Linked DNA regions of Homo sapiens: region 2 is linked to region 1. The links come from fine-mapping of genetic effects on gene expression. Tissue or cell type: whole blood. Region 1 holds a variant in brackets; the other region holds the start of a gene. All regions are shown on one strand. Distances are from middle to middle.

The links. PIP is the estimated chance that this variant, and not a neighbour inherited with it, causes the effect.
Region 2: it holds the start of TCTN2, and the variant in region 1 is fine-mapped to the expression of TCTN2 in whole blood (INTERVAL, PIP above 0.99).

What each region holds. Positions count from the first base shown.
Region 1 is chr12:122,788,832-122,794,634 of GRCh38, forward strand. CCDC62 (coiled-coil domain containing 62) reads left to right here. Exons shown (of 13, transcript NM_201435.5): 5 at 1-98; 6 at 3,189-3,290. Among named protein-coding and RNA genes, the nearest start is that of CCDC62, 17 kb to the left of the region's middle. RefSeq lists an enhancer at 1,072-1,625. The variant C/T (reference allele first, on the strand shown) is at 3,482.
Region 2 is chr12:123,668,676-123,674,192 of GRCh38, forward strand. TCTN2 (tectonic family member 2) reads left to right here and starts at 2,438. Exons shown (of 18, transcript NM_024809.5): 1 at 2,438-2,647; 2 at 2,832-2,939; 3 at 3,381-3,457; 4 at 4,940-5,135. The coding sequence starts at 2,566.

The DNA.
Region 1 (5,803 bases):
ACGTGATGCCAAGATGGCGGAGACTTGTATTGTGAAAGAAAAGCAAGATTATAAGCAGAAATTGAAGGCACTTAAGATTGAAGTCAACAAACTAAAAGGTAAGGAAGAGACCTACATTTAAGATACAAATGTATTATCTTGGGAATATAGTTTTTCATCTGGGTTCACTTAATCTTATGCTTGAGAGTAGATCAATTCCTGGCCTTAGACCCTAACGTGAAATATCCATTTCATTTATATAGGATTATGCTGCAATTTGTGTCTTATAAGATATATAACAGAGTTGGGGAAAACTGCAGAATGTATCATATTTTAAAGTAATCCTGCCTTAGTTGAGGTGGCTGTACCATTAGCTATCGCTAATACATGCTTTGTGGCAGACAACATCAGTATCTCAGTGGCAGACAGTCGTAGCATTTATTAAACCCACATGTCTAGAGGCAAATGGGGGAGTTGGCTGACTGTGGTTGGGCCTCACTGAGCTTCCCATCTGGGCAGTTTTGGCTCACACATTTCATCGTCTTGCTATCAGGCTAGCCTGGGCATTTCTTCCCATGGTGAGGGCAGAAACTTCTGATTCTGAAATTAGGAATTTTTATTTTTGCCGATTTATTTATTTTCGACAGAATCTCACTCTGTCACCCAGGCTGGAGTGCGGTGGTGCAATCTTGGTTCACCACTGCCTCCACCTCCTGGGTTCAAGCTATTCTCCTGTCTCAGCTTCCCGAGTAGCTGGGATTACAGGCACCTACCACCATGCCTGGCTAATTTTTGGATGTTTAGTAGAGACAGAGTTTTGCCATGTTGGCCAGACTAGTCTGGAACTCCCGACCTCAGGTGAATCCCTCTGCCTTGGCCTCCCAAAGTGCTGAGATCTACAGGCGTGAGCCAACACACCCAGCCGATCTTTGCTGATTTAACTTAAAAGATTCAGCATTCAAAAATGTTGTCCTTATGATGCCTTGACCTATGGTTAGCCATAGGTCTTATCTCCATTTGTAGCTTCAGCTAAAACCATAATCGTATTATCATCCCCTTGACAGCAGGAACAGACTCTGCTTCTCTTTTTCAGTGTACTGTTAATAGCATGGCACAAGGGCTACACTCTAGGTATTTGGTATTTATTGAATGTTTATATACACCGAGGTAAAATATTCAAGTAGAAAGAAGTCTGTTCTGTCAATATTTATATACTAAAAACATTTTATAAATTCAATATTAAAACTTTTTTTTTTTTGAGATAGTGTCTTGCTCTGCTGCCCAGGCTGGAGTGCAATGGCGTGATCTCAGCTCACTGCAACCTCCACCTCCTGGGTTCAAGCAATTCTCCTGCCTCAGCCTCCTGAGTAGCTGGGATTACAGGTGGGTGCCACCATGCCCGGCTAATTTTTGTATTTTTAGTAGAGACAGGGTTTCATCATGTTGGTCAGGCTGGTCTCAAACTCCTGAGCTTGTGATCCACCTGCCTCAGCCTCCCAAAAGTGCTGGGATTACAGGCATGAGCCACCACACCCAGCTTAAAACTTTTTTTTTAGAAAAGAAAAATAGTGGCTGGGCATGATGGCTCACATCTGTAATCCTAGCACTTTGGGAGGCCAAAGCAGGCAGATTGCTTGAGGCCAGGACTTCAAGAAGACCAGCCTGGATAACATGGCAGAACCCTGTCTCTACAAAAAATTAGCCAGGCATGGTGGTGTGATCCTGTAGTCCCAGCTACTCGAGAGGCAAAGTGAAAGGATTTCTTGATCCCAGGAGGTGGAGGTTGCAGTGAGCCAAGATTGGCCACTACACTTCAGCCTGGGCAACAGAGCAAGATCCTGCCTCAAAAAAATAAAAAAAAAGAAGAGGAATTTTTATAGAGCTCAATCTCCAGCCCTCCCTCCCCTTCCTGGAGGTCCACAAGTGGGACTGCAGGTTCCAGCCCTGTCTTCACTTGGTGTTTCTGGTGGCTGTCTGCATCCTGAGGCCACGTAGGAGCTCCACCCTGAGTCACCTCGTTAGCATGTAGTCTGGTGTAATCAACTGACTCTTCATGAATGACAAAAGATGCTTCTGTCACTTAGGAAATTCCACAAGTTTTAGGAGCTCTGTTCTCCAGGAACAGAGGACAAAAACCACATCTATTTCTTCTTATACCACAGACATACTCAAGGAACAGAAGGAAAGGAGGGAACGGCGGTGGGGAGATGGGCAGGTCAGGTCATGCTGGGCTCTGCAGTTTGTGGTAATGGATTTGGATTTCATCCTCAGTGCAGTAGCAAGGCTTCTCACTGAGAAATGACACGAGCAGATTTTTATTTTTAGTTTTATTTATTTATTTATTTTTGAGACAGAATTTCACTCTTGTCGCCCAGGCTGGAGTGCAATGGCGCGATCTCAGCTCACTGCAACCCCCGCCTGCCTCTCAAGCAATTCTCCTGCCTCAGCCTTCTGAGTAGCTGGGATTACAGTCGCCCACCACCACACCCAGCTAATTTTTGTATTTTTAGTAGAGACGGGGTTTTACCAGGTTGGCCAGGCTGGTTTCGAACTCCTGACCTCAGGTGATCCACCCGCCTCAGCCTCCCAAAGTGTTGGGATTACAGGTGTGAGCCACTGCACTTGGCCTTTATTTTTATTTTACTTTACTTTTTTTTGAGATGGAGTCTCACTCTGTTGTCCAGGTTGAGTGCAGTGGCGTGATCTCAGCTCACTGCAACCTCTGCCACCTGGATTCAAGCGATTTTCCTGCCTCAGGCTCCTGAGTAGCTGGGATTGCAGGTGTGTGCCACCACACCCAGCTAATTTTTGTATATTTAGTAGAGACGGGGTTTCACCATGTTGGCCAGGCTGGTCTCGAACTCCTGGCCTCAAGTGGTTTGTCCGCCTTGGCCTCCCAAAGTGCTGGGATTATAGGCGTGAGCCACTGCGCTGGGCAGATTTTGATTTTTAAAAGATTGCTCTGTGTACACTGGGCTGTCACAGGAGAGGCAAGGCTGGTGCAGGGAGGTCAGTCAGATGAGAGCAAGCGAAGCCTCCAACCAGGGGTCCTTGCCAGGTGTGGAGATGTTGGCTGTGAAACAGATTTTGTCTATAGATCCATCAGGACCGGAAGGAGCCGCTGAGGATGTGAGAGTTAGGCATAGTGTGTATATGAGGACTGGAACCTAGTATTTATTTGAGGACTTTCTTTTTCTTCTGTTGTGAAGAGGACCTCAATGAAAAGACGACAGAAAATAATGAGCAACGAGAAGAGATCATTCGCCTCAAGCAAGAGAAAAGTTGCCTGCACGATGAATTGCTTTTTACTGGTAAAACAGATGATCGAATGTATTTGTAACCTAGACTTGCAATGATGACAGGCTGAAGGAATTATACCTCTCCCAAAATGGTTTTTTTTTTTTTTTTTTTGAGACAGGGTCTTTTTTGAGACAGGGTCTTGCTCTGTCACCCAGGCTGGAGTGCAGTGGTGCAATCTCGTCTGACTGCAACTTCTGCCTCC[C/T]GGGCCCAAGCGATTCTCCTGCCTCAGCCTCCTTAGTAGCTGGGGTTACTGGTATGAGCCACCACGCCCGGCTAAATTTTGTATATTTAGTAGAGACGGGGTTTCACCACATTGGTCAGGCTGGTCTTCTTGAACTCCTAACCTCAAGTGATCTACGGGCCTTGGCCTTCCAAAGTGCTGAGATTGCAGGCGTGAGCCCGGCTTTTTTATTTTTATTTTTTTCTGAGACAGAGTCTCACTCTGTCGCCCAGGCTGGAATGCAGTGGCATGATCTCGGCTCACTGCAACCTCTGCCTCCCAGGTTCAAGCAGTTCTCCTGCCTCAGCCTCCCAAGTAGCTGGGATTACAGGCGCATGCTACCATGCCCGGCTAATTTTTATATTTTTAGTAGAGACGGGGTTTCACCATGTTGGCCAGGCTGATCTCGAACTCTGGCCTCAGATAATCCGCCCGCCTCAGCCTCGCAAAGTGCTGGGATTACAGGCATGAGCCATCACGCCAGGCCTTTTTGTTTGTTTTTAACACCCTTTGTGGGACCGATGGTGGACCAAGCAGCGAGTGTTAATGCTGCCATCCCGTTCCCAGTCACTATTTCCTCTTCTGTAAAATGAGCTATTCTCCCTTCCAGCTTAAGCGTGTGACTCTGCTTCTTACTAAAAACATAACATAGATGCTCCTTGACTTACAGGGTTACATTCTGATAAACCCCTCGCAAGTCAAAAATGCATTTAATGAAGCCAACCCAGCCACCAGCATAGCTCAGCCTAGCCTGCCTTAAACATGCACAGAACACTCGCATTAGCCTGCATTTGGACGAAATCATCTCACACAAAGGCTGTTTTATAATAAATTGTTGAATATATCATGTAATTTACTGAAAGCGAAAAACAGAATGGTTGTATGGGTGCTCAGAGTAGGGGTTTTTTAATGAATGTGTACCCCTAGTAAAAGGGGGACTGAGGGTAGGTATCAGTAGACCAAAAAGTGTTCATATGATTTTCTCTTCGGAACTTTACCTCTAAATCAATGACTTTCCTAACACAAACCACTGAAAAGAAAGCCCAGTAGAATCATCTTGGCTGGCAGGGATGTCAACAAGCTCTCTATGTCAGTCATTCTCAGTTGGGAGTGGAGAAGTAGGCCTTCACCAGTGGAAACTCTGAGATACTGGGGGTAGGTAAGGAATATGGCAGGGAATGGAATGCAGTTTGTCTGTAAATTAATGGGAAAAAATTGAGGCTCATCACAGCCTCAAACTCCTGGACTCAAGGAATCCTCCCGCCTTGGCCTTCCTAGTAGCCTGGCTAAATTTTTAATTTTTTTGCAGAGAAGGGGTCTCACTATGTTGCCCAGGCTGGTCTCTAGCTCCTGGGATCAAGCGATCCCCTTGCCTCGGCCTCTCAAAATGCTGGGATTACAGGTGCGAGCCACCATGCCCGACCTAAGAAGTTTTAAGTGAAATGGAATTCTTAATTTTAATCTCTTGTGATTAAAGATCGGGGTGAAAGTGTGGTATTCTGCCACTAGAGGTCACTATTTTCACCATTTCTAGGATTGCTGCATCTGCAAGTAGTGATAACCCGTTAACGCTGCTAAAGATATCACATATTTGTAGCTTTACAGTTGCATTCAAACAGTCCTTGGACCAGCATTTGTACGCCAGGTGCCCTGCGATATGCTCAGAAGCTCACAGGCCCACAGAATTCACTACTATACAAATGCTATGCATAAAATGCTATGGGAGGTCAAAGGAAAGAACAAAGCTTAAAGGATACGTTAGTCTCTTTTCTTTTTGATTAATCACTTTTTACCCATGCACTCTACTATGTATTACTAAGTAAAATACATGGAATTTGTTAGCTAATATTATAATAAATCGATTTTGTGAAATATTTTTATCATATACTAAGCAGATTTCTTTACCCAGGCTGGAGTGCAGTGGTACAATCGCAGCTCACTGCAGCCTCAAACTCTGAGGCTCAAGTGATCCTCCCACCTCAGCCTCCCAGGTAGGTGGGACCACAGGCACATGCCATCACACATGCCTAATTTTTAAATTTTTTGTATGGATGAGGTTCCACTATGTTGCCCAGTCTGGTCTGGAACTGCTGGGCTCAAGAGATCCTCCTACCTCTGCCTCCCAAAGCCCCAAAGCGTTGGGATTACAGGCATGAGCCACCATGCCTGTCATCCTAAATTGATTCCTTAAACATCTTCTTAACTAAAGACAATCTCACACCATTGTCTGAAAACAATTTTTGTATGTTTTATTCTTCTTTTTCAAAATATAGACAATTGATAGATTTGCATGTTTCAATTATA
Region 2 (5,517 bases), 880 kb after region 1:
TCTCTGTGTTGCCCAGGTTGGTCTTGAACTCCTGGCCTCAAGTGATCCATGTGCCTTTGCCACCCAAAGTGCAGGGATTACAGGCATAAGCCACCAAGCCCGGCCCAGAAATGTTTTCTTTTGGGAGGATTTATCTCTTAATCTTTACCGCTTGGCCTTGCCAACTTAATTTGCAGATTAATTCCCCCCAAAGACAGATGGGGAATAACAGAAATATTTAAGTGTTTGACAGCTTCCTCTTAGTAACGTTCTCCTAGGCTTCATTCCAAGATATCAAGAGAGGTAAACATTTTGCAGTCTTCCAGAGAGGAGCTGAGGTACACGGGAAAAGTTTCATGCTCATGTTACAACTGTAGTGACCCACAGTTTTTCAGGGAGTATAAGAAAAAGATAACACCCAGTGTCAGGCCCTTATAAAGCCTCAACTTTCAGAATCCTTTCACAATGTTAGATTTGCTGATCAATGAATATATAACTGAACATTAAGAGTAATAATGGGGCTGGGTACGGTGGCCCATACCTGTAATCCCAGCACTTTTAGAGGCCAAGGCAGGAGGATCACTTGAGCCCAGGAGTTTGAGACCAGCCTGGGCCACATGGTGAAACCCCGTCTCTATAAAAAATACAAAAATTAGCCGGGTGTGGTGGTGTATTGCCAGTTACTTGGGAGGCTGAGGTGGGAGGATCAGCTGAGCCCAGAAGTTTGAGGATGCAGTGAGCTATGATTGTGCCACTGCACCATTCCAGCCTGGGTGACAGAGTGAGACCCTGTCTCAAAAAGAAAAAAAAAAAAGACTAATAATGGCAAACATTTACTTGGCATTTACCGTCAGTCAGCCACAATGCTGAACACCATGATTGTCTCAGCTAAAGGATACACCACCTCTCTGATAGTTAACAAGTAACTGATCATTAACTGAGTGCTTACTGTATGCCAGCCATTGGTTTAACCTCATTAGATATGTTACCTCATTTCATCCTCACACAATCCCCAAGGAAGGATTATTATCATCCCTTTTTTATAGATGAGGAAGCTGAAACTTAGAGAGGTTGACTTGCCCAAAGTCACTTAACAGCTGAGAATATCTGTGGAGGGAAGGCGAAATCCCATGCCAGGCAGCCTGACCTCAGACCCTGCACTCTCAGTCCCCAAGCCGTGACAATATTTGAAATGTTCTGAGGCTACTGATATAAGAAAAAACAATTTTTTTCCAGACAGAATTTTGATTCTTTCACATCTGTCCTATTGCTGGGCAAAACCTCTTGTGTGTTCTGTGATTGGATCTGCTTTCAGAGTGCTGAGAGCTCTGTGCAGGGGAGAAAATCCTTCAAAAACCTAGGAGAATGATAATAAAAGCAATAGTGATAATAAATGATAATGATAAGAATTATAAAAATATAAATTTTATAAAATTATAACATATAAGTATAAAATTTACAAAATATATACTTATATAAAAGATAAATATATATAAGATAAAATATAAATACATATATATTTTATAAGATAAATAAATAAATAAATATATTTTTGAGACGGAGTCTGGCTCTGTCGCCCAGGTTTGAGTGCAGTGGTGCAATCGCGGCTCACTGCAACCTCCGCCTCCCAGATTCATACAATTCTCCTGCCTCAGCCTCCTGAGTAGCTGGGATAATAGGCGCCTGCCACCACGCCTGGCTAATTTTTTGTATTTTTAGTAGAGACGGGGTTTCACCATGTTGATCAGGCTGGTCTCAGACTCCTGACATTGTGATCCGCCCGCCTCGGCCTCCCAAATTGCTGGGATTACAGGCATGAGCCGCCAGACCCGGCCTATATGTATTTTATATATATCAAGTATGTATATCTGATATATATATATAAAACAAAGTATATCTATTTTGTAAATATATATTTATTTTATAAAAATATAAAATATAAATAATACATCATAAACGATAGTAAAGATAATAAACACAGCGCGGCAGCCCCATCCCCTTTTTCTACTCACCCCTAAAACAAATCCGTATAAAAATCAAGTTTATTAAGGAGCAAGTCCCACCCTTTTTATTTAGAAGCCAGTGTCTATAGGATCGCTCTTGGCTATTGTTGGATTAATTCCAGGGTAGGGGAAAACTCCAGTTTTTGAGCCGGACACGCACTCCTGCTTTTCAGGACCTTTTTAATTTTGATGTTTTCAACTTTTAGGCCCAGGGGTCCATGTACAGGTTGCTATATAGGTAAATTGCGTGTCACGGGGGTTGGGTGCACAGATTGTTTCGTCACCCAGGTACTAAGTGGAGCACCGGATAGGTAGTTTTTCAGCCCTCACTCTCCCCACCAGAGTCAAGCAGCAAAAATGCTAGGCCTTGTGGGCGGGGCCGGGGTGCCCGCTCTTGCCACTGGTCCAATCACAGCGCGGCGTTCCTCCTGGCCGGCCGCCGATTGGTGGTTGCCATAGCTCCGGGCGTTCGCTTGCAAGATGGCGGCGGCGGGGCAGTGGCTGCTGCGTTTTCGTGTCTGAGTCCTTCCTGGGTTCTAATGAGGGCGCGGTTCTGCTGTGCCCGGCCCGCGAGGTCTAAGGCATGGGCTTCCAGCCTCCGGCCGCTCTTCTTTTGAGGCTTTTCCTTCTGCAGGGCATCCTGAGGCTTCTGTGGGGGGACCTGGGTGTGTACGGCGCGGCAGTGACCTCGGTGGGCCGGGGCTGAGGGGACTGGGCGTTAAAAGGGCCAGACTTGGACTCCCCCGGGAGCTTCGGGAGTCGACAACGCCAAAGCAAGCCGCCACACACACCTTAGGCGGTGATTCTTCCACTGCTAACCCCTCCTTGTCCCCTTTCCTTCCCGCCTAGCTTTCATCCCTCCTTTTATCCGAATGTCCGGCCCTGCGGTCAGCGCGTCCCTGGTCGGAGACACCGAGGGTGTGACCGTGTCCCTGGCAGTGCTGCAGGACGAGGCGGGTAAAGTCCGGCCCTCTTTTGGGGAGGGTGGGGGTTGGACTGGATCCAGACCTCCCAAGGAGCCTGGAGAGGTGGCATCCTTGGGGCCCCCTGCCTCTGTTCTCTGCAAAGTCGCATGGGGAGAAAAGGATCGGGCGGCTGCTGTAGGCCAAAGAGGACAGACGGACAGGTTCGAAGAAAGCCTGAAATAATAATGGTTAGCATTCATTGAGCTAACATCGTGCATCATCCCATTTTCCTAGTAAGAACAGTAATATCTTTTCATCCCCTTTGACCAAGGAAGAAACAAGTTCAGAGAGGTTGTCACTGTCCCAGTGTCAAGCAGCTTGTAAAGGGCCCAATCTTAGGCTGTAATGTGAGTCCATCCTAGGCAGTCTGACTCAATGCACCCCCTGAGCTGCTGGACCTTGCTGCCTTTGCATGCTGGTCTTCTTTCTTTAGGAATATTGCCAATTCCGACGTGTGGAGTGCTGAACAATGAGACGGAAGACTGGAGCGTGACTGTGATCCCCGGTGCGGTAAGGCCAGAAGTAAACCTTCTCTGTAGCCTGTGAAGAGGCCCCCAGCTAGGGTTTCTGCAGTGCTCTCTTTATTTAACAAGGCATGGCTTTCTCCATGCTCTCAACAATCATGAAATTGTGGGCTGTTGGATCTGGTAGACACTTATCCAGCCCACGGGTTCCTTACCCTGGGGTTAGGAGTCCTTGGATGTATTTCAGTGGGTCTGTGAACTCTATGAAATTGTATGTAAAGTTCTGTGTGTATGTGCATTTTTCTGATGAGAGGGTCACCAGTTTCCTTTAGATCATCAAATGGGTCAGTGATTCAAAAAAGCTTTATGCCAGGCATCGTGGCTCACGCCTGTACTCATAGCGCTTTGGGAGATTGAGGCGGGAGGATTGCTTGAGCCCAGGAGTTCCAGACCAGCCTGTAACATAGCGAGACCTCGTCTCTACAAAACAATTAAAAAAAAAATTAGGTGGGTGGCGTACACCTACAGTCCCAGATACTTGGAGGGGGGTGGGGTAGCTGAGGCAAGAGGATTATTTGAGCCCAGGAGTTCAGGGCTGCAGAGAGCTATGATCGCACCACTGCACTTCATCCAGCCTGGGCAACAGAGCAAGACCCTGTCTCTTAAAAAAAAAGAAAAAGCTGGTCAGGCGCGGTGGCTCACGCCTGTAATCCTAGCACTTTGGGAGGCCGAGGAGGGCGGATCATCTGAGGTCAGGAGTTCAAGACCAGTCTGGCCAACATGGTGAAACCCATCTCTACTAAAAATACAAAAATTAGCTGGGCGTGATGGCGGGTGCCTGTAATCTCAGCTACTTTGGAGGCTGAGGCAGGAGAATCACTTGAACCCGGGAGGCAGAGATTGCAGTGAGCCGAGATCACGCCACTGCACTCCAGCTTGGGTGATGAGCGAGACTCCGTCTCAAAAAAAAAAGCTTCATAACCACTGATCTTGCCCAACTCTGAGCTTATGTGTAAGGATACTCAAACCTGGAGAGATTAAGCATCTTCTATTTAATAAGTGTTTATTGGATACCTAGTATATGCAACATCAATTCTGGAGAGAAAAGGACAGGAAAGACAAGCTCTGCTTGTACCCCAGGAGTGAACATGTACATGTCTAAAGTCATTCTGGGATAAACTGAGGATTGTTTTCATTGACTTTTTTTGTGTATTTACTCTTCCACTGATAGGATGATAAAGAAACTAAAAAGGTGTACAATAAACTGAGTTTATTTATCAGATCTGTGTTTAGCTTTCTCTAAGTATCCCGAAGTTGTTTGCTTTTATGTTAAGGAAGAAGAATCAGGGCTTGCATGTTACCATAGGTTTATGGGGGGGAACTGAAGATAACTGTGTCATCTCTGTATACATTTCCCTTTTATAAAATGAACGGAGGCTGATGTGTACTTTTATTGTGTTTTCCATTATGTATTCTTATAGACCCTGTTTTGAGTCACTTTAAAAATACAGCAATGTTTTCCTTTCAGAAGGTGTTGGAAGTGACAGTGAGGTGGAAGAGAGGTCTGGACTGGTGTTCCTCCAATGAGACAGATTCCTTCTCAGAGTCCCCCTGTATCCTCCAGACCCTTCTGGTTTCAGCATCTCATAATTCATCCTGTTCAGCACATCTACTCATTCAAGTGGAAATTTATGCCAACTCTTCTCTGACCCATAATGCCTCAGGCAAGTGAAGTCTTTGACTGTCAAAACTTTCATGTTGTTCCCAGCTACTTAGGAGGAAGAGGTAGGAGGATTGCTTGAGCCCGGGAGGTTGATGCTATAAATGAGCTGCCCGGGAGGTTAATGCTACAAATGAGCTGTGATCGCGCCACTGCGTTCCAGCCAGGGTGACAGAGTGGGACCCTGTCTCAAAAAAAACCAAAAACAAAAACAAAAAAAGAAAAATTTGTGTCAAGCTTACCTGTTTGATTATAAGTGTATGCCATGCAATTTGTAAAGTATACTTCACTTGAGTCTGTCTTGCTTTTCTAAACTTATTTTTCTTTTGTTTAGTTTTCTTTTAAGAAATTTCATTTTGTACTATTTTATTTAACATTTATTTGAT